Homo sapiens: one gene and its partners. The protein of the gene in region 7 purifies or fractionates together with the protein of the main gene of each other region. This does not show direct contact. Each region holds a gene or a part of one and is shown on either strand. Other genes may lie near its edges.

What was found.
Region 1: the proteins of BSG (region 7) and GNPAT purify together in Homo sapiens (affinity purification with mass spectrometry; 5 studies listed by BioGRID and IntAct, with this or other methods). This does not show direct contact.
Region 2: the proteins of BSG (region 7) and PDS5B purify together in Homo sapiens (affinity purification with mass spectrometry; 4 studies listed by BioGRID and IntAct, with this or other methods). This does not show direct contact.
Region 3: the proteins of BSG (region 7) and ATP2B4 purify together in Homo sapiens (affinity purification with mass spectrometry; 5 studies listed by BioGRID and IntAct, with this or other methods). This does not show direct contact.
Region 4: the proteins of BSG (region 7) and COG5 purify together in Homo sapiens (affinity purification with mass spectrometry; 4 studies listed by BioGRID and IntAct, with this or other methods). This does not show direct contact.
Region 5: the proteins of BSG (region 7) and ATR purify together in Homo sapiens (affinity purification with mass spectrometry; 4 studies listed by BioGRID and IntAct, with this or other methods). This does not show direct contact.
Region 6: the proteins of BSG (region 7) and EARS2 purify together in Homo sapiens (affinity purification with mass spectrometry; 4 studies listed by BioGRID and IntAct, with this or other methods). This does not show direct contact.

Annotation. Positions count from the first base shown.
Region 1 is NC_000001.11:231,268,464-231,272,578, reverse strand, and holds part of GNPAT (dihydroxyacetone phosphate acyltransferase), read right to left. Parts: intron 1,822-4,115; coding exon 1,579-1,821; intron 268-1,578; coding exon 188-267; intron 1-187. UniProt on the Homo sapiens protein: Dihydroxyacetonephosphate acyltransferase catalyzing the first step in the biosynthesis of plasmalogens, a subset of phospholipids that differ from other glycerolipids by having an alkyl chain attached through a vinyl ether linkage at the sn-1 position of the glycerol backbone, and which unique physical properties have an impact on various aspects of cell signaling and membrane biology.
Region 2 is NC_000013.11:32,757,246-32,761,360, reverse strand, and holds part of PDS5B (sister chromatid cohesion protein PDS5 homolog B), read right to left. Parts: intron 3,275-4,115; coding exon 3,142-3,274; intron 2,828-3,141; coding exon 2,708-2,827; intron 1,734-2,707; coding exon 1,671-1,733; intron 787-1,670; coding exon 641-786; intron 1-640. UniProt on the Homo sapiens protein: Regulator of sister chromatid cohesion in mitosis which may stabilize cohesin complex association with chromatin. May couple sister chromatid cohesion during mitosis to DNA replication.
Region 3 is NC_000001.11:203,709,903-203,714,017, reverse strand, and holds part of ATP2B4 (plasma membrane calcium-transporting ATPase 4), read right to left. Parts: intron 3,142-4,115; coding exon 2,910-3,141; intron 2,059-2,909; coding exon 1,879-2,058; intron 854-1,878; coding exon 766-853; intron 1-765. UniProt on the Homo sapiens protein: Calcium/calmodulin-regulated and magnesium-dependent enzyme that catalyzes the hydrolysis of ATP coupled with the transport of calcium out of the cell. By regulating sperm cell calcium homeostasis, may play a role in sperm motility.
Region 4 is NC_000007.14:107,284,181-107,288,295, forward strand, and holds part of COG5 (conserved oligomeric Golgi complex subunit 5), read right to left. Parts: intron 1-4,115.
Region 5 is NC_000003.12:142,568,734-142,572,848, forward strand, and holds part of ATR (serine/threonine-protein kinase ATR), read right to left. Parts: intron 1-4,115. UniProt on the Homo sapiens protein: Serine/threonine protein kinase which activates checkpoint signaling upon genotoxic stresses such as ionizing radiation (IR), ultraviolet light (UV), or DNA replication stalling, thereby acting as a DNA damage sensor.
Region 6 is NC_000016.10:23,550,550-23,554,664, forward strand, and holds part of EARS2 (nondiscriminating glutamyl-tRNA synthetase EARS2, mitochondrial), read right to left. Parts: intron 1,756-4,115; coding exon 1,600-1,755; intron 1-1,599. UniProt on the Homo sapiens protein: Non-discriminating glutamyl-tRNA synthetase that catalyzes aminoacylation of both mitochondrial tRNA(Glu) and tRNA(Gln) and participates in RNA aminoacylation for mitochondrial protein translation.
Region 7 is NC_000019.10:575,486-579,095, reverse strand, and holds part of BSG (basigin isoform 1 precursor), read right to left. Parts: intron 1,323-3,610; coding exon 975-1,322; intron 1-974.

The DNA of each region.
Region 1 (4,115 bases), on a different chromosome or scaffold from region 7:
TTAAACTTGATCAAGAATCAAACTAGAGTCTGCTGAACTGTGAGCGCCCCAGTTTCTCTTGAAGTCTGCCCCACTTTGCCTTGAAGAAAGGGATGGCACACTGCCTGAGACACATCTGTGAATTCACCCCTAACATTTCTAGAACTCACACTGCAAACATACTTGCTCTTTGTTGTAAGCACTTTACCTTTAGTGTGTTTCCTGGAAGGAAGATGAACTCATCTGCAAAAACATCACGTAGGAAGCGAAAGCAACTGTAGACATCCTCTGGAAATAAATGCATCATGTAAAATTACAACATTGCCCTTTAAACTTTAAGGGAGTACCAGGAAGTCCTTACTATCACAAAATGTATTTCAAAGGCATATTTTATTCATGTAACAGGGACAAGAATTAAGTCCCCTGAGGGAAGCTAAATTAAACCCAAATCTTACCCACAGAGCAAACTACGGTCTAGCATAGTTTGTTTTTTGTTTTTTGAGATGGAGTCTCGCTCTGTCACCCAGGCTGGAGTGCAATGGTGCAATCTTGGCTCACTGCAACCTCCGCCTCCTGGGGTCAAGCGATTCTCCAGCCTCAGCCTCCCAAGTAGCTGGGATTACAGGCACTCGCCGCCATGCCCAGCTAATTTTTGTATTTTAATAGAGACAGGGTTTCACCATGTTGGTCAGGCTGGACTCGAACTCCTGACATCGTGATCCTCCTACCACGGCCTACCAAAGTGCTGGGATTACAGGCGTGAGCCACTGCGCCCGGCCCTAGCATAGTTTTTAAATGATTGACTCTAACCTACAACCAGGCTTCTACTCAGCGAGACATCACAGTCCTTAGAGGCCAGGACGCTTCATTTTTCCCTACCCCATGGCTCCCTAGTAGGGAAGGAAAGGTACTGATTTCTTAATTTCCCTCTATATTCATATTTCCTGGTATCTTTATTATATCTGTAGCACTTTTCCTTAGAATCACTGTGGAGCTTTGAAAAGCCAAAACCAAAACCAAAACCAAACACCAATGGCTGGCCCATACCCCAGGTCAACTGAAGAAACTTTGGGGTGGGGCTCACTCCCCTAGTAATTCTAACATAGGGCCTTGACAGAACCCCCTGGCCTTGACTACAGGCTCCTGTGAACATGACGTGTACTGTACTCATTTTTATACTCCTGATACAATTAGAACAAGACCATGCATCTCGGGAGTACTCATCGACTGCTGACTGCTCATCTGCCCACCTGCCTTTGCTGGATCAGGGAGCTGGCACAGCCAAAACAGTGCCGCAGACCAGGAAGTGGAGAACTGTACTCAAATGCCAGATCCTTCTCTCAGTAATTATGCAACTTTCTAGGCCTCATTTTCCATATTTATAGAAGGAAAGGTTTAGATTATTTCCAGGTCCTCCCAATTCCAAAATTCGAAGCAGATGAACAAGTATTTGGGGAACAAAGCTAACTTTTTCTCAGTGATAGGCCTGCTCTTCACCGGCGTGAGGCTGAACATTACAAGGCTTCAAATGTGGCTCCCTAAATGGAATGGAATGGCCAGACCTCTTCTAAAAGTCAAGATTGCATTCCTGAAAATTACCTTTCCTGAACCCTGGTGTCATCTGCAATGCTACTGCTACTAAGGATGGGCGCACAAAAATGTTGAGCAGCTGGTTCCTATAAGCTGAGCACATGAGGAGAGTGATGTGCTGGAGCATAAGCCCATCGACCACTTCCGAGTCTCCGGAGTCCACTTTCAGAATCACCTGGTCTTTGACAAGGCTGGCAATGTTGGAATGCAGAAGAATGCTGGCCGGGACAACTTCTTCAGCAGGTTTATTATCTACACACAAAGACAATTCATTCAAACAAGATGGGTCACTGCAGGGAGTCTTAGGCCTAGCGTACGTTAACGTTATTAATGGTAACGTGACAGATGCTCATTTTCAAGTGACAGGTTTTACTGTCTACCAATTACGGTAATGATACCAAATCTGAAGAAAAATTTAAAAGTACTATTTCATAAATCAATTCTTTCTCTCTCTCTAAGGACATGTAACATACTTTCTTACCCCCAAAATTTGTCAGCCATTCTGAAAGGCACATCAGTTTCTACTCTGAAAATGAACACCACTTCTGTGTACTTCAGGAACCAAGGGAATCTAAAGTTTTCTAACAGCAAGTTACATAACTGGAAAGTCACATGCACGGGAATGTAAGAATACTAAGAAAAAGGCCCATGATTAGTGTATGAATACATTAAAACATACAACACACACACACATGCACACACACCCCTTGCTTAGACCCATACTAAAATGGTAAAAATATCACTTTGCAGTTTTCCCCAAATCAAAGATAACTAAAGGGGCAGCTCCATGGCAGTTGGTAGCTTATCACCTGACATATTGGCCTGCAGACAGCTGCCAGGCAGGTAGAATTACAGAAGCATAATGAAGAGATGGTGATATTTAACAAATATTCTCAGCACGGAAAATTATTCTGCAGTTAACCTGAGCCAAAGAGCTGGCTGGCAGTGGCACACTGCTCAAGTTGGGTGGCAAGTTCTGCTACTGCTTCAAGGCAGGGACAAGTGAGAGGTATGGCTTCCTCCTGGACTTGATCACATTCATTCTTGAACAACTTGCCTTGTCTCAGCTTGCTCAATTGAATAATATTTTATGTGAAATGATCATAAAAAGCTTGAGATATGAACATGCTTAGGAATGTGGGGTAATCTGCATAAAAAAAGAAAAAAGGAACAGAACTGTAGTGACACTGAACAGATACTCTTAGTTATGGATTAGTTATGGCATTTATCCCATCCTGAAAAAGCAAAACACTTTAGAAAAACAAGTACCTATGTTTTCATATGTTCCTGGGCCAAACAATGATGGGTTTGAGCCCTTTTAGCTATTTCTCATGACATCCAACACTTGCTACTTGTATCATAATTAACACATCCTTTGCCTCCTACCAGACCCAGCCCATCACAGCACTGAGAACAGGTGTCTGATTTGTCTCTCTCTTGGTGACTGGCATTTTTGTCAGTAAATCCTCCTCATCTCTTGGCTGTGCCCTGAGTGCCTCCACTGCTGCGGCTCAGGCATCTCAGGCATCCTGCATTTCTCATTGGGACAGAGCAGCCTCCTAACTTGTTTCTATACCTCCAGTCTTCTGATGGTGGATGGTGGGGAGGAGGCGGGGAGGTCCATCTTTATTTTCCATCTACCCACCACCCCATCTGGGCCAACACTTTAATATCACTGATGAATCTCTGGGGCCCAAGCCTCCCATCTTGCATTCCTCATCCCTGCCTTGGCGAGGATCCTCTCCTGGTCTTCCTGAAGGGTTCAAAAGTCGCTTCTGTGAAGTCTTCCTGAGTATGGTCCCTTTCCTCTGCAGCACTCTCAGGAACCCTCTGCAGCATGCATGTTGCTCCTTGTCTCTGTTCACTGAACCCTCACAACTTGTTTACACATTACCCACCCACCCTGCCCTCTGCAACCCAGGGGAACGTCCAGGATGGGGATGGCATCTTGTTCATCTTCATATCCCTGGTAGTACCCAGCACAGAGGAGGTATTCAGTATTGGGTTGATCAAAGAACAGTAGGTACTTGACTTCAAATAATTATCTGGTCTTTAAAAAAAAACGCATTTCCAACTGTAGCCTGTACAATTTTTTTTTTTTTTTGAGACGGAATCTCGCTCTATCACCCAGGCTGGAGTGCAGTGGCGCAATCTTGGCTCACTGCAATCTCTGCCTCCCAGGTTCAAGCAATTTTCCTGCCTCAGCCTCCCGAGTAGCTGGGATTACAGGTGCACGCCACCATGCCCGGCTAATTTTTGTGTTTTTAGTAGAGACGGAGTTTCACCATGTTGGTCAGGCTGGTCTGGAACTGCTGACCTCGTGATCCGCCCGCCTCAGCCTCCCAAAGTGCTGGGATTACAGGTGTGAGCCACCACGCCCGGCCTTTTTTTTTTTTTTTTGGAGATGGGGTCTCACTATGTTACTGAGGCTGGTCTCGAACTCCTGGGCTCAAGTGATCCTCCCACCTCAGCCTCCCAAGTAGCTGGGATTATAGGTGTGTACCACCATGCCTGGCTAGGATTCATGACTTTATTTTCCACCGTAC
Region 2 (4,115 bases), on a different chromosome or scaffold from region 7:
TTGAATTTAAAAAAAACAAAAAAGCAAAAACACACTTTTAAAAAAACGAAGTTTATATATGTACGTGGTACTATACAAATAAATTCAAATGATACCAAAAAGTATAAAATAACCTCCCTTTCTATACTAGGTTAACATAAATACTGTTAAGATTTTGCATATTCTTCAAAAAAACTTTCTATGCATATAAAAACAAATGTGAACATTAATCTGTTTTCAAAACTTAAAGATTCCATAATGCTGCTTTATATACTTTGCCTTTTTCACTCAATAATGTATTGTGGAAACTCTTCCATACTAACTCAGACCTCATCATGTTTAATGACTATGTATTCCATTGTATCATACACCATAATACAACAGTTTTACAATTGCTACACACTGAGGTTGGAAACTAGTTTATGTGTACTAACACAGATTACCCCCAACAAGCTAAAGAATGAAAGACTAAGACAGAGCACCCATCCAAAATGAGCAAGCAAATAAGTATGAACTTGTGACTACCAATGTTAAATGGAAAAATTAAGTAATACATTACTTTCCATTTACTGACATGAAACATTTTGGATTATATTATTTCAGATCTCATAGCCTTGCTGGAATCCTTAAATGTAAATTGTGGCATTTCTTTTGCACTTACCTCCCCTTTATTCTTCCAGGAGAGCTTGGATTTGAGCTGCTGCTTGCATTGCTTACAGTTTCCATTCGTGATGATTTGGTCTGAGATTGCTTGCCTGCTGATGAAAGTGGCTTGTTAACAGCTCCTAGAACATTGGTTGTTTTAGGCTGAAATGAGAAATGCACATCTCTTTTTATTTGGTTAAAGCCAAAAGAAAGTTACGTGTAAAGAACCATAAATAACATCTCTCTCAAAGTATTTACTTACAAATCATGAAAAATGTGTCTATCCTTAAGCAAAGTAATAAGTATAAACTAAATATCACTTGAACAAATTAAAAACTATACAGACAGCATAACAGTTGAATTTCTTAGTTATCTGGAGAAAACGGCTTACATAAAAAGTGAGAACAAATGAAATGAATAATCAACAATGAAAATAGATAATTAGACTCTTGCCATGGAAAGACATAAGAATATGCTTTTTTGGCCGGGTGCAGTGGCTCACGCCTGTAATCCCAGCACTTTGGGAGGCCAAGGCGGGTGTATCACGAGGTCAGGAGATCGAGACCATCCTGGCTAACACAGTGAAACCCCGTCTCTACTAAAAATACAAAAAATTAGCCAGGCGTGGTGGCAGGCACCTGTAGTCCCAGCTACTCAGGAGGCTGAGGCAGGAGAATGACTTGAACCCAGGAGGCGGAGCTTGCAGTGAGCCGAGATGCGCCACTGCACTCCAGCCTGGGCAACAGAGACTCCGTCTCAAAAAAAAAAGCCTTTTAAGATTTTTTTTATCTTGATATTAACCTAAGAAGTCTAAGAATCAGGTCTCCTAGGACTTTATTACAAGCTAAAAAGTAATTTGTGTATTTCAGCTTGTGTATATCTAGTAAATATAATTATTTCTTACTAGTAAATGTAAGATCGTTAATTCTTATATTTTCCAGCTTGAAAATATAAATTTTTGAAGAAATACAAAATAACACAATTTTGCCAATAATCACTCTAAAATAAGCTACCACATAAAAATTAAAATGATTCTCAAAACATACTTTTCCAGGAGTGAAAAATGATTTCATTTCAGGAGGCAGATAATTTTTGGTGTTACTGAAATTCTACAACCAAGAGAAAAAGAAGTAGTCAGTGAATATTAAAACACTATCTACAGGTGGTTCAAAAGCCAACAAAGCAAACAGCAGTTTTTTTATTTAAACTAAATTATCATATGAAACACAAAATTTCAGTCACTGATTTTAACTACTGTAATAAGGTTAAACCAACCTCATGCCAACTCTAATATTAACAAAACATATTTGAGCTCTAACATGTTAGAGCTCTAAGAGTGCATCAGAAAACACATGCTTCTTTAATAACACCCTTCAGGGGAAAGACCACATGTACATATTCCTATTACTCTGCTCACACCAACGTGACAGCCCTTTTAGCTACTGAGCAATCCTACAGGCCTGTTCCAAATCTCTATACACTGGTAAGGTCTTAACTGGCATTTTGCTTTAAAAGCAAAAAGAGGATAGTGGTTATTTCCAGACTCTGTTACTCAATATGTTCAGCTAAATTACGAGGAATTAAATAAATAAATTATAAAGGAGTAAGAGGGACTGTGGGAAACACTTTTTACATCTTATATCACACTCGAGTTTTTGGAGCATGGTTTGGTAACACTCTTGTAGTATTCCCAGGGTCTTAGGCATGTTCTAGTGTCTGTTCTCTGCTTGTTTCCTCATACCAATTATAAATCCCAATAAAGGGCTTTTAACTTCAGACTGTATCTCTATCAGCACTCTCCTTCCCATTTTGAACAATGGCCATTAATTCACAGATTCACATGCTTTGATCACATTTCTACCTGCGCTCTAAGACTGTCTTAAAACTGAACATAAACACCAGATCATCCTAATATCTGAACCTTATGTGTGTCCTCCAGTTTGACTCATATTCTGGTTCTGATCTTAAATCACATTCTTAAGACTCACAGCAATTTTTCCATGATCCTTCCTGATCTTCCTACAATCCAGTGCTGAGAATACATTTTATTTCAACTTACACAAACAAATTGTAAAGTAACTACCTTGTCAGGTTGAGTGAAGAAACGAGCTGGTAGTACCGGGTCTTTAGGAGATTCCAAACTGTATGTAGTACTCTTTGACATGATGATATTCATGGCAACATCACACACAGTGTACAGTTTCTGCAATAGTATATTTTTAAAAACACAGATACTTAAGCTGGCAATCTAGACTCTGTAAACTAGGAATAATTTCAGAACATGAATCCAGTCTGAATAGCAAACTAATGAAAGCAACAGTCTGTGTAAGCATCTTAGCTTACACTACTGGTTTTGCTCATTTACTTGTAATAAAATTACTGCTAATTCTACGTAATTCTAATTACTAATAGAAAAAATTATTTGATGCTATCTATAAATACTACAGAAGTTTCATACTTTACACCTAAATTTTTAAATCAATATGGAACCATAATTATTTACAAAGAATTACATACTTCATTCATTTTTGCATCATCTGGTCCTTGGGCATCTTTTGTTTGTTTAATATTTTCTACCATCTTTCTGATAAAAGCGTGACTGTTATTTTCATTTTTAGCCATTAATATTTCCAGAACAAACCAAAGACATCTAAAAAAAAAAAAAAGGAAAAAAGAAATATAGAAGAAAATCATCCTTTGTTAAATATAGATACAATAATTCTAAATATAAATATAACAAACCTAGATAATATAACTCCAGGAAGAAAAAAAAAAAAGAAACAGTTACAAACCAGCAGGGAAAAAGAATATGTCATACAAACATATAAAAACAGGTCAACAATGCAGATATGAGCTTATAAGATCCCTTCTTAAAATCTCACCAGATTTCCAAGGAGGCGGGTTAAAGGGGAAACATAAATGGTAGAAAGGATGAAGTTATCTTAACCCTCAGCTATGACAGGGAGTTAAAGACTGTCAAAGGAATAGTGGGGCCACGGATCAAGTGAGGCCTCAGATACTCAAGACTGACTACAGTCCTGATGGGAACTCTTCAAGAGAATATAACTGCCTTATTAAATATGAACAGTTAAGAATATTCAATAATAGAGAGAAAAAGTCAAGATTGACAATTATAAGCATTGTCTTTGCTTAAAAAGGGAAAAATTAAAAGAAAGCTTCAGTAGCTCAGTTTTAAACTTAATTACGTAAAACTCTATTCAATACAAAATGAAAGTGTTTTGCCTATGTATTATAGAGACAGAAAGGAACAAAGTTATAGTTGATACATAGAGGAGAAAAGTAATGGGAGAAGGAGGAGAGAAATGTGAAGCAAGGTATTATTCTAGAACAGAAAAGAAATAACCTTTAGGAACTTAGGTATAGGATAAGTTCTTCTGAAGTGGCTCCCTGATAGAATGGAGATTATGCATGGCTACACTGGGGCTACTTAGAAATATAACCGTAAGTGTCTAGTAAATTCCAAAGGATGT
Region 3 (4,115 bases), on a different chromosome or scaffold from region 7:
GAGTAGCACTGAACTAAGTTTGTCCTCATCCGGTACCCTAAGACAGCTATGAAGAACACATAGGATGGATTTCAAGGCAGAGACCTAGGGGTCAAACTGCACCATTTCCACGTACCAGCTGGGTAATTTGGGTAAGTTACTTGTCTTCTCAGCCTCAAACTTCCTCATTTGTAAAATGGGAATACCTGCCCTGCCTAGTTCACAGTACTATTGGTAAATAAGACATGATCATGTTTTTAAGAACCCATGCAATTGCCAGGTGCGGTGGCTCACGGCTCTAATCCCAACACTTTGGGAGGCCGAGGTGGGCGGATCACCTGGGGTCAGGAGTTCGAGACCAGCCTGGTCAACATGGTGAAACCTTGTCTCTACTAAGAATACAAAAATTAATCAGGCATGGTGGCATGCGCCTGTAGTCCCAGCTACTCGGGAGGCTGAGGCAGGAGAATCACTTGAACTCACGAGGCGGAGGTTGCAGTGAGCTGAGATTGCACCACTCCACTCCTGCCTGGGTGACAGAGCAAGACTCGGTCTCCAAAAATAAAAACAAAAAATAAAAAAAATAAAAACCCAACAACTTTATTGTGTGTCATACTCACCAAGGGCTCAGATGTTTGCTAACTGTATGTTCTCCCCACTAGCCTGGGAGCTCTCCTAGGACCTCCCTATTTGGACAGGAGAGTGGCTTTGGCTGGTGGTTCTTATCTGTCCTCGCCCTGGCCTGCCTTCAGCTGTTGCAGGCACCTATTTGGAAGCCAACCTCACCTTTCACCAGGGTGTGCTTGTCAGTGGGAGAAGATCGCGCCAGGACCCGAAGCTTAGGCCAGATCTTGTCCAGCTTTTCTTGCTCTACCTGCCAACACCAGACCACACCTGGATCAGTCAAATGCAGAAAAGCTATCCAGGAAAATCTTAACTTCTCCATACACTTGGAGTCACTGGGAGATTGGGTACACCACAGTCCCACATGAAAGTGTTATTCTGGATTAAGCAGAGATGAAACAGCCAACCAGTCTCCAAGGGTAGATTCATGGATGATGACCATTCAGGCCCTGCTTTTTTTCTTTTTCCTCCCAAGTCCCTACCTGGCAGCCAATCCCCCATTTCCCAGACCTTTAATGGGAGGTGGGCCAGGGTTGGCTGTTGGCTCGGGTGGGTAAAGTGGTGCTTCTGAGGTCTTAGGTTTGATTTCTATGTAGCTCAGGAAAGCTTGGATCTGTGCCACCGCCAGACCACATTCTCCTTTAGCCACTGTTAGCCAAAGGGCAGGGACACAGGAGGGGTGGGCTAGGGGGAAGTCAGTATAAAAAACTGAAAAAGCAGAAAGACAAGAAAAGTTAGTGACACTGTCTCAAAAGATAGCTTGTGAATGAAGCTAGCAAGCTTCATTCACAAGCAACTCCCCCCCTCTTTTTTTTTTCTTTTTTGAGACGGAGTCTTGCTCTGTTGCCCAGGCTGGAGTGCAGTGGCATGATCTTGGCTCACTGCACCCTCCGCCTCCCAGGTTCAAGTGATTCTCCTGCCTCAGCCTCCCCAGTAGCTGGGACTACAGGTGCACGCCACCATGCCCAGCTAATTTTTGTATTTTTGGTAGAGACGGGGTTTCACCATGTTGGCCAGGATGGTCTCTATCTCTTGACCTTGTGATCCACCCGCCGTGGCCTCCCAAAGTGCTGGAATTACAGGAGTAAGCTACCGCGCCCAGCCGGCAACTCCCAATGTTACCATATCAGCAGTTTGGTACAAGGAGATGTTTCACTACGAATAGCTTTCACTTTAGAAACCACCCACCTTCCCGCACATGACCCAGATGCCTTATGCTAGAACCCGCCTTTTCCTTGTCAGGTGAGGTCCTGGTTCCCCCTAGCCAGGACCCACCTCGCCTTTCTCGTTGCGGATGAGCCGGTTGAATTCTTTGCCTTCTAAGCACAGGAAGTCATCCCCAGGTGTCAGAATGCCACATTTGGTGGCAATGGCCCGGGCTGTGTTGATGTTGTCACCTGTCACCATTCTGACAGTAATGCCAGCTTGTTTGCATTTGGCAATAGCATCTGGCACCTATGGAGAGTGAAGAAAGGGGAAAGGCGCAGATGAGGGTGATGACCCTGGTAAGCTGTCCCTGTTTGTCTGTCCCTTTGTGGCAGACAGGAGAAAGGCACCCTAGAAGTGGTGCCATGCAGCATGGGCTAGGTCTGGTCATTTTGATACTGTTGGGTGCCACCTCACTTCTGTCCTACCCACGGCAGTCACATTTGAATTTGCCCTATTGTACCATGAGTTGAAGGGGAAATTTGCTTTGGGAGTGAGGTGTAAAAACTTGCTCTTTCACTTACAATTGAGACTTCTCGGCAGGGCATGAATGGCATTTTGCGATTTGGCCAGTGCTTTCTTTTCTAGCAGAAGCTTTTGCCACTCTCCACCCACCTGGCCCATGTTCCAACCATATCAGCTCTTTGTAATTTCCCACATGCATGACACCCTCTCATGCCTCTGGGCCTTGAGAATTAATAGTCCATCTGTCTAAACTTCTTAGAAGCAGAGACTTTTCAATCCCCTAGTGTCTAGAATAGTTATCAGCACACAGCAGGTACTCAAAAAGAATGTGTTGATTGAAAGGAGGGAGCTAAAGACAAAGTTGGTGTCCTGGCTAAATTGACCTCCTGACAACACTTAAGTACCAAATAATGAGCCCAATAAGCCCTTTGCTTCTCAACACTCAGACAGCATTAGTCCTAGGAATGCCACATTCGATCATACTGGCACTCCACAGCAGTCCTGTGAAGCAGGAAGCACAGAAACTTCTATCCCTCTAAGTGAGAGGCAGTTAGGTTACCTGCCTGGGGTCACAACTAGAAAGGGAACTAGTACCCCACTTCCTGAGACTCCTGGGTGGCTTCCCACCCTCTCACCTCTGGGCGCACAGGGTCCTCAATGCCCACCACCGCGATACAGGTCAGTTCGGTGAGGATCTCATTCTCATTGTCCCAAGAGGGCTCTGTGTCATCGAAGTCCCGGTAAGCTATGCAGATAGTCCGGAGTCCATCACAGGCCATGGGCTCGATGACAGTGCGTACCATATCATCTCTGTCTTTATTCTTGAATGGCACTGCTTCCCCTTTCCGGTCCAGGATTCGATTACACCTGGGGAGGCGCACAGTAAGAACGCGGTGTCTCCCTTCCCACTCAATACGTTTCTACAATCATTGACAGGTATTTTGGCAACTCTGTATTATTCCTAAAGACATTGCTCCAAGTGTGGCCAAACATTTCCTTCATTCATCACCCAGCTGAGTCCCTCTTTCCAAGGTAGGTGGGCTGTGGATGGAGTTAAGGTCTAGATATATAGAGAGTGGGATTCTCCCATGTCATCTGTTCTTACCCATATGTGAATGCAATGCAAGTCATTTGTGAATCACCTGCTCTTTTGAACTTCTTGAAGGCAGAGAGACTTTTTCAATCCGAGTATTTAGAATAGTGCTCACTGTGTGGTGCTGGTGGTTTGGGGGAGGTTTCCTATACAAGAATGTGCTGATTAAAAGAAGGTGGCTAAAGCCATGTTGGAGCACTGGTTAATTCAGCCCTACTTAGGTATAGTGCCAACTTTTGATGAACTATGGGTAATTTATTAATAGTCACTTTTTTTTTTTTGTAATGGAGTCTCACTCTGTCACCCAGGCTGGAGTGCAGTGGTGCGATCTCAGCTCACTGCAACCTCTGCCTTCTGGGTTCAAGCGATTCTCCTGCCTCAGCCTCCTGAGTAGCTGGGATTACAGGCACGCACCACCATGCCTGGCTAATTTTTGTATTTTTTTTTAGTAGAGACAGGGTTTCACCATGTTGGTCGGGCTGGTTTCGAACTCCTGACCTCGTGTTCTGCCTGCCTCGGCCTCCCAAAGTGCTGGGATTACAGGCGTGAGCCACTGCGCCTGGCCGAATAGTCACTTTTAAAGTTATGTAAATTCCCTGTAATCAGAAATGGGAATGGGAAGGAAAGAGAAGGAAAAGAGAACACAGAACAAACGTTTCTAGTACTTGTTATGTATAAGGCATTTTACATACATTGAATCATTTAGTTACAGTGAGGGGGTAGTACTTTTAGGAGCTGAGTATGGCTA
Region 4 (4,115 bases), on a different chromosome or scaffold from region 7:
CACAAAGTGCTGGGATTACACGTGTGAGCAACCGTGCCCGGCCTATATTAACATTTTAATCTCTACGTAAGTCCCCACTATAAATGCACAATAATATGCACCAATACCTACTGTATTATCTGTTTCCTTAAACTAAAAGAATAACAGTAAAATCCTATTAATGCTAATGGGGGCTATGCCTTTACTTGTAAATCATACCTATAGAGTTATCGAAGCATATGGAAGAAAGACCAGCCTGCAGAGACCTGCTCCATTAGCTTGGCCCTTTCCATCCATAGCTGCCTCCCCAGTAAAGCTCACTGACTGAGAGGGAAGTGTACAGACTTAGGTTTTTACATTTTCCATTTTTGTGTTACTAACAAGAGTGAGACAAAATAAAAAGTATTTATGGAAGTCCTAAAATCACGTAAATACTCCCAAGTGGAGTTCTATGCTACTTTGTTTTATAATATTCTTCACAACATCAAATGTAACCTGAGAAACATTTCTTTCCTGCTTGCACTTCCCATATCTTTAATAATTCATGCTGATTTTCATTTAGCAGTCAAACTATTTGATCTTACATTTTTCTTTCGACAATTACTATCAAATGTCTATAACCATTATTTTCATGTTTCCTTACTCCTATAATTAATTGTCTTCTCACATCATCCCTGTTTACAATCCTTCCACCAGCTTTTGCATTGTCTTTTTTCTTTTATAAACAACAAATTTTCCTTCATCTAAAAAGTTAACCTTTAAAACATCTAACCTGCTCCTTCATGTATATGAAACTTGGCTTTCTCTTTTTCTCACCCTTCTGGTCCACTGATATGACCTAGAGATCAGAATGCTCTTGGCTCCAACATCATAATTCCATAGTTATCTCTTAATGTTTTCTCATTCAGTAAGTATTTCACTCAACACATATTTACTGAGAATACTACGCACCAGGCACTTTGTAAAGTGCTGGGAAGATAGAGATTAAGAGTGCTTTACAGTCTTGTGAAGAAATTGGCAGGTAAAATGCTAATTATAATAATTTCTGTAATAGATGAAGATACCAAGACCATGATGGAAGCATGAAAGAACTTAGTATCTAAATGTGTCTGAAGCAATCCTCTGTTGAAGTCCGAGCCATCTATTTAAATGTCACTATTTTTACTCATGACATCTACTGACCTCAGAAGCCTCTTCCCACTTCTGCAGAAATTTTGGCACTGAATTATAAGAACTAACACTTTCCCGTTCTCCAAATCTACCGTTAAAGATCCTTGGTAACTACAATGTCAAACATCTTTTCTAAAATATGTCCTATATTAAAAGTCTACATTTATAATAACCTTTTTTGGCTTTACTAGGGGGCTTCCAAATTTGAGTCATCACTTTGAACTGCTCCACCTCTAAGATCTTCAAGCTTAAAGGAAACTGTCTACATGCCCCACCTTCTATCTCTACTTTTCCTTCCACAAATATTAAGTCACTACAATATTTGCCAAGTATTTCCTAGGTGCAGAAATATAGTAGAGAACTTGCTTTAAAAAAAAAATTCCCGGCCGGACCTGGTGGCATGGTGGCATGTGCCTGTAATCCCAGCTACTCAGGAGACTGAGAGAGAATTGCTTGAACCCAGGAGGAAAGGGTGCAGTGAGCCAAGATCATGCCACTGCACTCCAGCCTGGGCGACACAGCAAGACTCTGTCAAGAAAAAAAAAAAAAAATTCCCTGTCTTCTTAAAGCTTACACAGTAACAGGAGAGATATACACAAAAATAAAAATTTAAAATAAGTTAAATATGGAATATGATAATGATAAGTGCTAAGAGAAAAATAAAGCAAGGAAGATAGAGAATAATGCTTAAGTCTTTTTTCCTTTTCCATCCGATTTTAGATAGGATGAGGCAAAGGAAGGCTTACTGAGGGGCCCTGAAGGAAAAGAGGGAGCTAATTGTGTAGATTTTCAGGGAAATTGCTTTCCATGAGGAAAGAACAGCAAGTACAAAGGCCCTGAGGAGAGACCATACCTGGCTGTGTTGGCCAGAGGTGCAGATCAAGTAACAGGAGGGTAGTACAAGATAATATCAGAGAAAACAGATGGACGTCATGTTAGGCTTTGCATATCTATAAGGGTGGTATATTTTACTCTAAAGAACTTGTTCTTTGACCTTATTGTAATTTATGCTACATGACCCCTTCTTGCTTCCAGCCTCCATCAGCCCACCATGTCTATAGTCATCCTTTTTCCATAGCCATCATTTCAAGGTGCTCTCATTAGCACCCTGATTTTTCCAATTCACCTTCCTTTCAAAGTTCTAAGAAAATGTTATTGAGATGTTCTCTGTATCTGCTGCTAAGCTGGCCAAGTACTTCAGAGAAAAAATGATTTCTACTGGACATTTATACAAACTTCTTTAAAATCAAGAGACCTGAAGGTCAAAGTAATAACCTAAAATTCTACTTGTGCAACTCTTCAATCTTTATAGATGACTTTTGTCTTGGTTTTACCCTAAGAGAAAACCACTGGCCGTGACCTTTCTCAACGTGGCACTTCTCTTGTTTTTTTCCCTCTTACAACTTCATCTATTCTCTGTGACTTTCTTATTATTTCAATGAAAGAGGTAACCTCACTCCTTTTTTTAAAATAAAAAATTCCCAGAATAATTTAATCTATCTCTTCTTATCCCATTCTCTTCTTACACAGATCTGATCGCTATACATGTATCACAGCATCACTCTATATATGTATAAATATTATGTGTCAGTTAAAAAAATAAAGGAAAAAGATATGTCAGCATAAAAAATATAAAGACATATCTCTAAGTAAAAAGGTTTTATTGGGGAATAACATACGAGAAGCAGGATTGCTATCTTGGACCTACAGACAGAACAGGGTGGCCTCTGGTATGTTTGGAAAACAAAAGAAAGGCTGGAGTTTATTGGGGGAAGAGGAGGTTATGCAAGTTGTTTTCAAAGACAGTTTACTGGCACTGGCAGCATCTTATATAAGAGCTGGTGAGTTCTGATTGGTGAGTGTCAGTAAATTGCAAAGTAGGACTTGCAATTTTAGTGTTATGGTTAGGCCCTTGCAGTTTGGATTGGGCTTGTGAGATAGTGTGTCAGGCAAATGTTCTTGTTTAAGTGGCTAGCTGTCCCTGTGTGACTTGTGTAGTAAGCTGCAGTTGAGAAAAATTTCTTGTGATAGTTCTTGTTATCAGGCAAATCATGTGTGACAGCTCTCCCTTCATAACCGTCCCCCAGCTCTATTTTGCCAGGCTTTGACACAAGTGACTCCATGTCGAATCTGACAACTTTCATATATATAATTTACATAGCATACCACCACTTGAATTCAATCACTGAAAGTATACAATTTGATGAATTTTGTATATTCAGAGATCTGTGCTATCATCACCACAGTCAATTTTAGAACATTTTATCACCTCAAAAAGAAATCTTGTATCTTTAACTACAACACTCCACCTTCCTCACTCCATCCCCAGGCCCAATCGATCACTAATCTACTTTGTGTTTCTATAGATTTTGCTATTCTGGATTTGCATATGAATGGGATAATATACTGTGTGTATCTGTGTATGTGTGTGTTTTACTGTCTTCTTTCACTTAGTATAATGTTTTCAAGGTTCATCCATGTTGCAGCATGTACAGTACTTCATTTCTTTTTATGGCTAATATTGTATATATTTTAATTGTAATATTTCATTGTATGAATATAGCACATTTTGTTTACCCATTTGTCTGTTGACAGACATTTGGTTGTTTCCATCTTTTGGCTATCAGGAATAATGCTGCTACAAACATTTGCATACAAATGTCTACGTGAACATATGTTTTTATTTCCCTTGGGTATACATCTGGAGCGAAACTGCTGGGTCATATGGTAACTATGTTTAATAGTTTGAAGAGGCCGCACATAGTGGCTCATGCCTGTAATCCCAACACTTTGGGAGGCTGAGGCAGGAGGATCCCTTGAGCCCAGAAGTTCAAGACCAGCCTGTGCAACAAAGTTAAACCTCGCCGCTACAAAAAATAAAATAATTAGTCAGGCATGGGAGTGCACGCCTGTAATCCCAGCTACTCAAAGGCTGAGGTGGAGGACTGCTTGAGCCGGAGAGTTAG
Region 5 (4,115 bases), on a different chromosome or scaffold from region 7:
CCTGGCCTCTCCCCGCTCCCGGCACCCACACCAATTTCGGAGCAAAGTTGTGGGGGAGCCCAGGTGTTGTCAGGACCAGGCCGCGTGTGCATGTGCTCAGGACGGCACTGACACACCAGCCCCCTGCTGCCTCATCTCCCTCTGGACTTTGGGCAGGCCAAGCGGTAGGCTGAGGGCAGCTCAATATGGGCCTGCAGGCGCCCCTCGGCACGAACAGCCTCGGTGTAGTGGGTGGCAGGTTGATGGCAGCAGGAAGTAGGCTCCTGGGAGGAAAGGGGTGGGTCCCCAGTGAAGACCCACCTTCAAGCCAGGAACAGCTTGAAGCCTGGAAGCCTGGCTGCCAGTTACACGGACCACAGCGAGAACTTAGGGTGCTTTTTCCAGGCCCACCCATGACTGCCTATGGACCAATTAGCATTCACTTCCTCCCTTCTGAAGCACATAAAAACTAAATTTTTGGTGGAACGCTAATACCCTTTTCCACAGTGGCTGTACCATTGTACACTCCCACCTGCAGTGGACAAGGGTTCCAATTTCTCCACATCTTCACCAACACACGTTATTTTCTGGGTGTTTTTTTATTATTATTTTATTTTCCCCTTTTGGCGACAGGGTCTAACCCTGTTGCCCAGGTTACTGTGCAGTGGTGCACCCATAACTCACTGCAGCCTCAACCTCCCAGCCTCAGGAGATCCTCCCACCTCAGCCTCCTGAGTAGCTGGCACCACAGGTGCATGTCACCACACCCAGCTAATTTTTTGTATTTTTTGTAGAGACAGGGTTTCACCACGTTGCCCAGGCTGGTCTCAATCTCCTGGGCTCAAGCGATCTGCCTGCTTTGACCTCCCAAAGTGCTGGGATTGTAGGCATGAGTCACCATGCCCAACTGTGTTTTTTTTTTGTGGGATTTTTTTTGTTTTTTGGTTTTTTTTGAGACAGAGTCTTGCTCTGTCACCAGGCTGGAGTGCAGTGGCATGATCTCAACTCACTGCAACCTCTGTCTCCCGGGTTCAAGCAATTCTCCTGCCTCAGCCTCTCAAGTAGCTGGTACTACAGGCATGCACCACCATGCCTGGCTAATTTTTTGTATTTTAGTAGAGATGGGGTTTTACCATGTTGGCCAGGATGGTCTCAATCTCCTGACCTCGTGATCCGCCTGCCTCAGCCTCCCAAAGTGCTGGGATTACAGGCATCAGCCAACATGCCCAGCCCCAACTGTTTTTTTATTAATAGCTATCATAATGGGTGTGAAACAGTATCCTGTGGTTTTGATTTGCATCTCCCTAATGATTAGTAATTGTGAGCATCTTCTCATGTGCTTATTTGTCCATTTGTATATCTTCTTTGGAGAAATGTCTATTCAAGTTCTTTTTCTGTTTTTCATCAGGTTATATTTGTTGTTAAGCTGTAGGAGTTCTTAATATATTCTAGATATTAAACTCCTTATCAGACATATGATTTGCAAATATTTTCTCCAGTTCCATGGGTTGCCTTTTCACTCTATTGATACTGCCCTTTGATGCACAAAGTTTTTAATTTTGATGAATTCCAATTTATCTGTTTATTTTGCTGCCTGTGCTTTGTGTCATATCAAAGAAATCATTGCCAAATCCAGTGTCATAATGTTTTCCCTCTATGTTCCCTTATTTTTATTTATTTATTTACTTTTTGAGACAGAGTTTCACTCTTGTTGCCCAGGCTGGAGTGCAATGGCGCGATCTCAGCTCACCGCAACCTCCGCCTCCTGGGTTCAAGCGATTCTCCTGCCTCAGCCTCCTGAGTAGCTGCGATTACAAGCATGTACCACCACGCCTGGCTAATTTTGTATATTTTTAGTAGAGACAGGGTTTCTCCATGTTGGTCAGGCTAGTCTGGAACTCCTGACCTCAGGTGATCCACCCATCTTGGCCTCCCAAAGTGCTGGGATTATAGGTGTGAGCCACCATGCCCGGCCCCCTCTATGTTCACTTCTAAGAGTTTCATAGTTTTAGTTCTTATGTTTAGGTATTTGTATGCCTTTTGGACTTTTAAAATTTTCCTGTAGCAGTAAAGAGAGAAGCCAGATTGCAAGGGGCTGAAAATCTAATGAAATGTGAATACTGAGAATAGCGGGTTCTTTCCAAAGCTTGATCATGAAATGAAGAGAAGTAGAGTTGGTGATAACTAAAGAACTGTATGAGATCAAGAGGGCTTTGTTTTGTTTCTCCCTTATAATGGAAAGACCTAAGCAACCAATTCTTGAGATGTGACTCCTCTTCTTGGAACCAGATATAAGTAAAAAGACAATCCTTGGACAGGAGGGTAACTCTTTCATAAACATAGAAAGAATGGATGGGTACAGACGCAAATAATTTAATAAATTCAAAAGGCAAGTAAAACAAGATCCTCTGCTTCAAAGAACTCAGAATAGTTGCTGGGGAGAGGAGAGGAATGCACTTAAATAATCAAAAGCGGCCGGGCATGGTGGCTCACGCCTGTAATACGAGCATTTTGGGAGGCTAAGGCAGGCGGATCATGAGGTCAGTAGATCTAAACCATCCCGGCTAACATGGTGAAACCCCATCTCTGCTGAAAACACAAAAATCAGCTGGGTGTGGTGGCGGGCGCCTGTAGTCCCAGCTGCTCAGGAGGCTGAGGCAGGAGAATCGCTTGAATCTGGGAGGCGGAGATTGCAGTGAGTCGAGATCGCGCCACTGTACTCCAGCCTGGGCGACAGAGCGAGACTCAGTCTCAATAAATAAATAAATAAATAAATAAATAAATAAATAAATAAATAATCAAAAGCAAGTATCATGTACACCCAAAGCAGGGAATGATTAACTCTACCTAGAGGATTCACAGTGGGTTATGTGTGAGTGATTAGCAAAGTCCATCACTTCTGACAAAACAACTTAGGGTGTAGTAAGACAGTTACTTATAAATAATAGCATATATTTCATATATGTCACAATTTATTTCTATATAGCACTGTAAAATGTTCATACATTTTCCCCACTTATTATCTCAAATAGTGGTAAAAGAAAAAGAGTGAATTTTTTTCTTTTTCTGATACAGAGTCTCGCTCTGTCGGCCAGGGTGAAGTGCAGTTAGTGGCACGATCTTGGCTCACTGCAACCTCCGCCACCCGGGCTCAAGCAATTCTCCTGCCTCAGCCTCCCAAGTAGCTAGGATTACAGGCGTGTGCCACCACACCCAGCTAATTTTTGTATTTTTAGTAGAGACGGGGTTTCACCATGTTGGCCAGGCTGGCTCGAACTCCTGACCTCAGGTAATCCGCCCGCCTCAGCCTCCCAAAGTGCTGAGATTACAGGCGTGAGCCACCGCACCCGGCCCTTTTTCTTTTTTTTTTCTTTTGAGACGGAGTCTCGCTCTGTCGCCCAGGCTGGAGCGCAGTGGTGTGATCTCGGCTCACTGCAACCTCCGCCTCGCAGCTTCAAGTGATTCTCCTGCCTCAGCCTCCCGAGTAGCTGGGACTACAGGCACGTGCCACCACGCCCGGCTAATTTTTTGTATTTTTAGTAGAGACGGGGTTGCACCATGTTAGCCAGGATGGTTTCGATTTACTGACCTCATGATCCATCCGCCTCGGTCTCCCAAAGTGCTGGGATTATCGGCGTGAGCCACCACGCCCGGCCTGACTTTTTTTTTTTTTTTTTTTTTTTTTTTGATTATTCAAACCACAAAGTCCAATCCTAATTGATTACATATAGGATCAATAGCATTTACAGCTAATAAATGCCATAAAAGAACTGATACTGGTCGGGCATGGTAGCTCATGCCTGTAATCCCAGTGCTTTGGGAGTCCAAGGTGGGCAGACTGCTTGAGCTCAGGAGTTTGAGACCAGCCTGAGCAACATGATGAAACCCTGTCTCTACAAAAGAAATAGAAAAATGAGCAGGTATAGAGACACACACCTGTAGTCCCCAGCTACTCAGGAGGCTGAGGTGGGAGGATCGCTTGAGCCTGGGAGGCTACAGTGAGCCAAGATTGTGTCACTGCACTCCAGCCTCGGTGACAAAACCAGACCCCTGTCTCCAAAAAATAGAAAAGAAAAAAAAGAACTGTTCTCTGGTCCTGGTACATAGTAGACATTTAAAGAAAAAAAAACAACTCT
Region 6 (4,115 bases), on a different chromosome or scaffold from region 7:
GCCTCAGCCTCCTGAGTAGCTGAGACTACAGGCACCCGCCACCACGCCTGGCTAATTTTTTGTATTTTTAGTAGAGATGGGGTTTCACTATGTTAGCCAGGATGGTCTCGATCTCCTGACCTCGTGATGCACCAGCCTCGGCCTCCCAAAGTTTTGGGATTACAGGCGTGAGCCACCACGCCCGGCCAACCATTTTATACTCTTTAGGAATCCAGAGTTTAGTGAGTAATTTACCTGAGATTAGAACACACATCTCAAAATAGTCTTGGGGTTTTTCTTTCTTTTTTTTTCAATCTCTAGACTAGCAGAGTCTTGGTATTTTTCCTTGGGAATCTCCCCTTTCCTAGTCACACCCGTCCATACAGGTAGACAACTGTCGACCCATGAAAAGGAAACACACTCCTCTTTGTTCTCCCTGACCTTAGCTGTCCTCAGGATAAAACTTCCCACAAGATCAACTTCAGAAGCTGTACGTGTTTTGTGTGGCTTATACAACATGGTTAAAAAAAATCTGAGCCCAGATTTAATAATGGTTAAGTATTCATCCAGAAAAACTGGATTTCTGGCTCCTCTTGCAACTCAGAGGATTGGACAAGCTGGGCCAGCATTCCCGCATGGGCACAAGGAGCTGGAGCTCAGAGGCACTCCCAACTCTGGATGAGGTGTGGTTTTCACAGCTCAGCACTGGCCCAGCTCCTCCAGTTCCCACTTGGCCCTGTGTTTCCTGCCTGGCCCCTGTAGGGAATGAACTTGAGATTCTGAGGTGAAAACAGGAATCTCAAAACAGCCTTGGCAGTGGCTCACACCTGTAATCCCAGCTCTTTGGGAGGCTGTAGCAGGAGGATTGCTTGAGCCCAGGAGTTTGAGAATAGCTTGGGCAACACAGTGAGATCTCATCTCTACAAAAAAATTAAAAATTAGCCAGGCGTGGTGGTGCGTGCCTGTAGTCCCAACTACTTGGGAGGCTAAGGTGGAGGATCACTTGAGCCCAGGTCGAGGCTACAGTAAGTTATGATTGTGCCATGGAACTCTAGCCTGGGTAACAAAATGAGACCCTGACTCTAAAAAATTAAAAAATAAAGAAACCAAGTTGGGCGCGGTGGCTCATGCCTATAATCCCAGCACTTTGGGAGGTCGAGGCAGGTGGATCACGAGGTCAGGAGGTCAAGATCATCCTTGCTAACACAGTGAAACCCCGTCTCTACTAAAAATACAAAAAAACTTAGCCGGGCGTGGTGGCGGGCGCCTGTAGTTCCAGCTACTTGGAGGCTGAGGCAGAAGAATGGCGTGAACCCGGAAGGCGGAGCTTGCAGTGAGCCGAGATCGCACCACTGCACTCCAGCCTGGGCAACAGAGCAAGACTCTGTCTCAAAAACAATAAATAAATAAAAATAAAGAAACCAGTCTTGGAGCTGTGTTTCAGAGAGCTTCGGCATTTTTTCAGGTGTCATCTGCCACCCCGGGCAGGGCAGTACAAATGTAGCCACTTCTCCAGGAACTCCCCATTTTCCACTCAGAACTCCATGAGAAGACCCACAGGCTCCTTTTCCTGCTTCCTGTTCCTTCCCTGCAGAAAGATCCTTTCTCTGCCAGGCTTACCTGCCCACTCCAGCATGTCCTCAATATTCTCCGCTGCCCCAGGCACAACGCGAGTCTGATCTGTGTCCTCTAGCCTCAGGATGAAGCTCCCCTGGTACTTCTTAGCAAAGATGTAGTTGTACAAGGCAGTGCGGAGGCCACCCAGGTGCAAGAAGCCTGGAGAAGAGAACAGCTCAGATAAGACAGGGAAGATAAGCTAATAGGCCTCAGCAAGGGGCAAGTAAGCACTACTGTGACAGAATGTTGCAATAAATTTAAAAGACCAGCAGGACACATTGGCTCACGCCTGTAATCCTACCACTTTGGGAGGCCAAGGCCGGGGGGATCACTTGAGCCCAGGAGGTTCCTGTAGGTTTTTTAAGACAAGAGTCTCACTCTGTCACCCAAGCTGGAGTGCAGTGGCACAGTCTTGGCTCACTGCAACCTCTGCCTCTTGTGTTTAAGCAATTCTCATGCCCAGCCTCCCGAGTAGCTGGGATTACAGGTGTGTGCCACCACGTCCAGCTACATGTTTGTATTTTTGGTAGAGACAGGCATTCGCCATGTTGGCAAGGCTGGTCTTGAACTCCTGGCCTCAAGTGATCCCCCCAGCCTCGGCCTCCCAAGTGCTGGGATCACAGGCAAGAGCCATCACACCTGGCCAATTTTTGTATTTTTAGTAAAGATAGGATTTTGCCATGGTGGTCAGGCTGATCTCGAACTCCTGACCTCAAGTGATCCATCTGCCTTGGCTTCCCAAAGTGCTGGGATTACAAGCGTGAGCCATTGTGCTTGGCCTGAGTTTGAGATCTGCCTGGGCAACATGGTGAGACCTTGTCTTAGCAAAAAATATAAAAATTTAGCTGGGCATGGTGGTACATGCCTGTGGTTTCAGTTACTGAGGTGGGAGGATCACCTGAGCCTGGGGACGCTGAGGCTGCAGCGAGCCATGATCACGCCTCTGCACTCCAGCCTGGGCAGCAGTAGAGTGAGACTCTGTCTCAAACAAAAAAAATTAAAAATTAAAAAATTTTTTTTCAAAGACTAAGAACTAGTTACCCCTGTGCCCTGTCTCCAGACACATTTAATCCCTCATCCTGAAAATGGAAACCACCCAGGATTTGGAGCATGTCATTTTATTAAAAGGCTCCAATTTTCCCCAACTGCATCCACCACTCTATTTTGATATTTGTCTCAAGGCCAAGTTTCGCCTGAAAGAGAAGCAGAGAGTTATTCATTGAGGCCATATCATGTACATTTAACTTACAGAAATTCAATGATGTGCGCTGGGAAAAAAATTAATTACAAACAAACTAGAAATTTAAAATACTGTACAATCATATTGTGGGCCAGGTGCAGTAGCTCACACCTCTAATCCCAGCACTTTTGGAGGCAGAGGCACGAGGATCACCTGGGTCTCTAAATTTGAGACCAGCCTGGGCAACATTGTGAGATCCTGTCTCTACAAAGAAAAAAAAAATCGGTGGGGCATGGTGGCTCACACCTTTAATCCCAGCACTTTGGGAGGCCGAGGCGGGTGGATCACAAAGTCAGGAGTTTGAGGCCAGCCTGGCCAACATGTTGAAACCCCGTCTCTACTAAAAATACCACAAAAAAAATTAGCTGGGCATGGTGGTGGGCGCCTGTAATCCCAGCTACTTGGGAGGTTGAGGCAGGAGAACTGCTTGAACCCAGGAGACAGAGGTTGCAGTGAGCCGAGATCGCACCATTGCACTCCAGCCTGGGCGACAGGGCGAGACTCCATCTCCAAAAAAAAAAAAAAAATCACATTTTGCATATGCAGTCTATGCAGTGTGCATGACTGTCCACGTCGTACATTTTAAATTTCATCTACTTGAGATTTTTACTTTTTTAAAGAAACAAAATTCATTTTTGAAATTTGAGATGGGGTCTCACTCTTGCCCAGGCTGAAGTCCAGTGGTACAGTCACGGCTCACTGCAGCCTCAACCACCCAGGCTCAATCAATCCTCCCACGTCAGCCTCCCAAGTAGCTGGAACTACAAGTGTACACCACCATGCCCGGCTAATATTTGTTTTTTGGTTTTTTTTTTGCAGAGGCAAGGTCTCACTATGTTGCCCAGGCTGGTCTCAAACTCCTGGGCTCAAGCAATCCTTACACTTCAGCCTCCCAAAGTGCTGGGATTACTGGCATGAGCCACCATGCCTTGCCAAGATTTTCACCCTAATTGCTGGCTTTAAACACTAACCAAAAGTAGTGTTTGATTCCACTGTATTTCTCTTCATCAGTTTAAACTCCTAAGATTTGCCTTTTTCATCATTCCTGTCTGAAAACTGAAAGTTAACAGCTTTTCCAGAGTTGTCATTACCTCTTACCGTACCTTCTTCGGACCAGCCCACAGCCCTAAGTCTCCACAATGAGCTCATCTACATTTACAAGTACAAGAGGCAGCAGAGGAGAGAAAAAGCTCTTCTGGGGCCAGGCCGACCCTGCTTCAACACTGATGTGTGTAACCTTCGGATAGTTACTGCAAGGACACCAGAAAACCAGTGGTAT
Region 7 (3,610 bases):
CTTGTAGCAGCCCCAGCACAAACTGGAAATTCTTTTCTAAAAACGTAGCCAGCTGGGCGCGGTGGTGGCCGGGCGCGGAGGCTCACGCCTGTAATCCCAGCACTTTGGGAGGCCAAGGCGGGTGGATCTCGAGGTCGGGAGATCGAGACCATCCTGGCTAACACGGTGAAACCCCGTCTCTTCTAAAAATACAAAAAATTAGCTGGGCATGTTGGCTCATGCCTGTAATCCCAGCTACTCAGGAGGCTGAGGCAGAAGAATCGCTTGAACCCGGGAGGCGGAAGTTGCAGTGAGCCGAGATTGTGCCACCACACTCCACCTGGGAACAGCAAGACTCCATCTCCAGGAAAAAAAAAAAAAATAGCCACAGCACCCCCGGCCAAGGCTCCCGTGCCCTTCTCTAGGAGGCACTCAGGTGGCCCCACATCCCCCCAGCCCCAGGCTGACGGCACTCCAGCAGTGCTGGGAGCACCCCGGTTCTTCTGCCAATCCCCAACCAAGCAAATCTCTTGGTTCTTGGTTAGTTTACAATATTCCCGCTAGGAATTGAAATTTGAAAATCCCTTAGAACGAGATGCTGCGAAGGACACAGAAGGTTCTGAGACCTGCAAGCCTGGGCTGAGCTTGGAGGGCCCCTCAGGCTTGCAGTATGGACGCTCAGGGAGGGAGCCGGGCAGGCGCCCGGGGAAGCAGAAACGACGGAACGGATGGCACGAGGGTCGAGGGGAGGACGAGGACCCACCTGCTGGAGGGCAGAGCCCTGCCTGCCCCGAGCCAGGCCGCCCAGCGCTGGTGGTCAGGCGGCGAGCCCACCCCCTTCAGGTCCGGGCCCCTCCGTCCAGGCGGTGGGCCCAACGGGGCACAGCGGGACGGAGAGGGGAGGAGGCGTCTGGGTTCTACTGAGCAGGAGCCGGGAGGCGAGCGGCACAGGAGGGAAACTGAGGGAGGCGGGGAGGGAGGTGCCCGCCACTCACGTTCCAGGACTAGCACGACTGCCTGGGCGCGGACCCACTTGACCCTGGGCGCCCGGGTCAGGTGGTTGCGATCCGGGTCGTTGCTGGCCCGGCACTCGTAAGTGCCCGTGTCCTCCTCCACGAGCGTGTCGATGGAGATGGTGCTGGCCGCGTGCTGGTGGTAGGTGGCGTGGATGTGGACGCGGTCCAGCCGGGCGCCGTCCCAGAGCTGGGAGCAGGTGTCGTTGGGACCCTGCCCTTCAAACCACCACTGGATCTCGGGCACCGGGCTGCCCACGGCCTCGCAGTGCAGCTCCACACTGCCCCCCACCCACCTCTGCTGGGACAGCGGCGCCTGGACGAAGCCGGCTGTGGGGAGAGCACGCGTGGGGTCTTGTTAGTGCCTGGGGCACTTGGGAGGGCAGCTCCTGGGGAAGGCCTCGCCCACAGGACTCCCAGCCAGGGCTGGTGGAGAAGCCACTTCCTTTCAGCTTGTGGGAGAGTGATGGGGCCCGGCTGGAAACAGCATGGCATGGGAAAGACCGTGGGCGTCCCGTCCACTGCTACCTCACGGCAGCCACGGCGGCTTCTGAGGGCACAACTGTGGGACCACACGTGGTTTCAAAACACAAAACACATGAAACTGGGCAGAAGAGCCAGGAGTCCTGAGCCCCGAGGGCTGCCCAGAGCTCAGGTCCCAAGCGCACCGTCCTCTGACTTCTGCCCGATACCCTGACCCCAGAGACCCGGGTGAGCTGCTGAGAAAAACAAACCCCAAAGCCCAAAGGGGCAGGCGGCCTCTGTCCAGAAGCCCCTAGCCCGGCTCCGTTAGGACAGCCCGTGGGTGGAAAGCTCGTGTCCTCAGCAATCTCTGAGGGCGGCGACCCAGAGAGAGGCGGATTTGGGAAGCTGGGAGCCAGGCAGGGCCTCAGGGCCTCTCACCTCCAGCCACACGCCTCCCCTTCCTTCGAAATGCAAGGGAAGGCCCCCAGAGCTGCCAAGGAGCACAGCAGAATCCACACAGAACCTCACACTGTGCCTAGCACTCGCCTGCCAGGAACAGCCCAGCCCAAGGGGAAGCGTGGGGAGTGCCTCCTCCCGCCAGGACCTTGCAGCCCTCCCCACAGCACCTTCTGAGGTCAGACTCCCCAGGCACCGCTACAACACACACACACACACAAGGACACACGTCTGCAAACACACACAACACATACACACGTGCATATGCGTGCACACGGCTCCGAGGCTGCGTGGCAGTGCACAGGTCACGGCCCCCAAGGCCACGGGGACAGGAATGTTCACGTCTGAGCACCTCAGGTGAGCTCTGGGCAGGCGCAGTTGACAAGTTTTGGCAGCGCCATTTTCTTTCTCCTCTTCTTCTTTTTTTTTTTTTTGAGACAGAGTCTCACTCTGTTCAGCAGTGGTGTAATCTCAGCTCACCGCAACCTCTGCCTCCCGGGTTCAAGCAATTCTCCTGCCTCAGCCTCCCAAGTAGCTGGGATTACAGGTGCCTGCCACCACACTCAGCTAATATTTTGTATTTTTAGTAGAGACGGGGTTTCACCATTTTGGCCAGGCTGGTATTGAACCCCTGACCTCGTGATCCACCCTCTTGGGCCTCCCAAAGTGCTGGGATTACAGGCGTGAGCCACCGCGCCTGGCTGGCAGTGCCATTTTCACAAAGGGATCTCCTCCTGGTAACCTACATTTCTTGGGAGTTAAGATTTCCCAGACTGCAACACTGGCAGCTATGTGCAGAGCTGGGCGAGGTGAGTCAGGGCAGGAAGCACAGCCAGAGGCTGCCCAGCTGGCAAGCTCCTTCCTGCCCTGCAGCAGCCCCTCTCCTCATCCTCCAGACCTGCAGGGCTGGGCTCCACATCCTCCTCACCCAGGGGTGCTAGGAGAGGGCTGGCCCCTGACTCACCTCACCCCACCTCCAGGCAGGGCAGGGCACACAGGAAAGTGAGGAGGACCAGGTGGGGCCCGCAGCCGAGCTGCCCCCAGCCACCTTTCCAGGAGTCCCGGGCTCCCAGGCGCCATCTGCACCGGTCCCGGTGCTCCCGCTGGGTCCGCCAGCTTCTCAGCGGGCAGCATCGCTCCCAAAGGGACCAAAAGGCTTTGGATGGAACAACCCTGTGTCCCTCCGGATGCTGATGATGCTGGTGTCTGTGTATTGACGTGTCACTGGGGGTGGGGGGGCGTCCGGAAGAGAAAGCCTCCATAGAGGCTCCTCGGGGACAATGCAGAGCGCCCCCACCCCACGGACCACCCCATCTCGCCCGCCGCACCAGGAGCCTCCACCCATGAGCAGCAGGAGGAGGGACGGCGCCTGACCCTCGGCCACAGCCCCAGAAAGGTTAGAATTCGATTCTGGCCACATGAGACGTAACCCATGTTCTCAAGTAAAGTCACCTTCATCTAAAAACAGCCTCCGCCTCCTTGCCCAGGGCTCAGGGCCAGGCAGGCCGCGTGGTACTTGTACACAAGCAGCCCCGCAGGATAAGGCTGCCCGCCCCCACCCGCCCTCCTCCCCACCCACCCCAGTGCTCAGACAGCAGCCAGCGAGAACAGCTCTGGGAAGCAGCCTCGGGCACCTCCCCCACCCACCCCCACCGGCCGCAGCCAGGCACTCCCACTCCTCTCATCTGAGGCTCGGG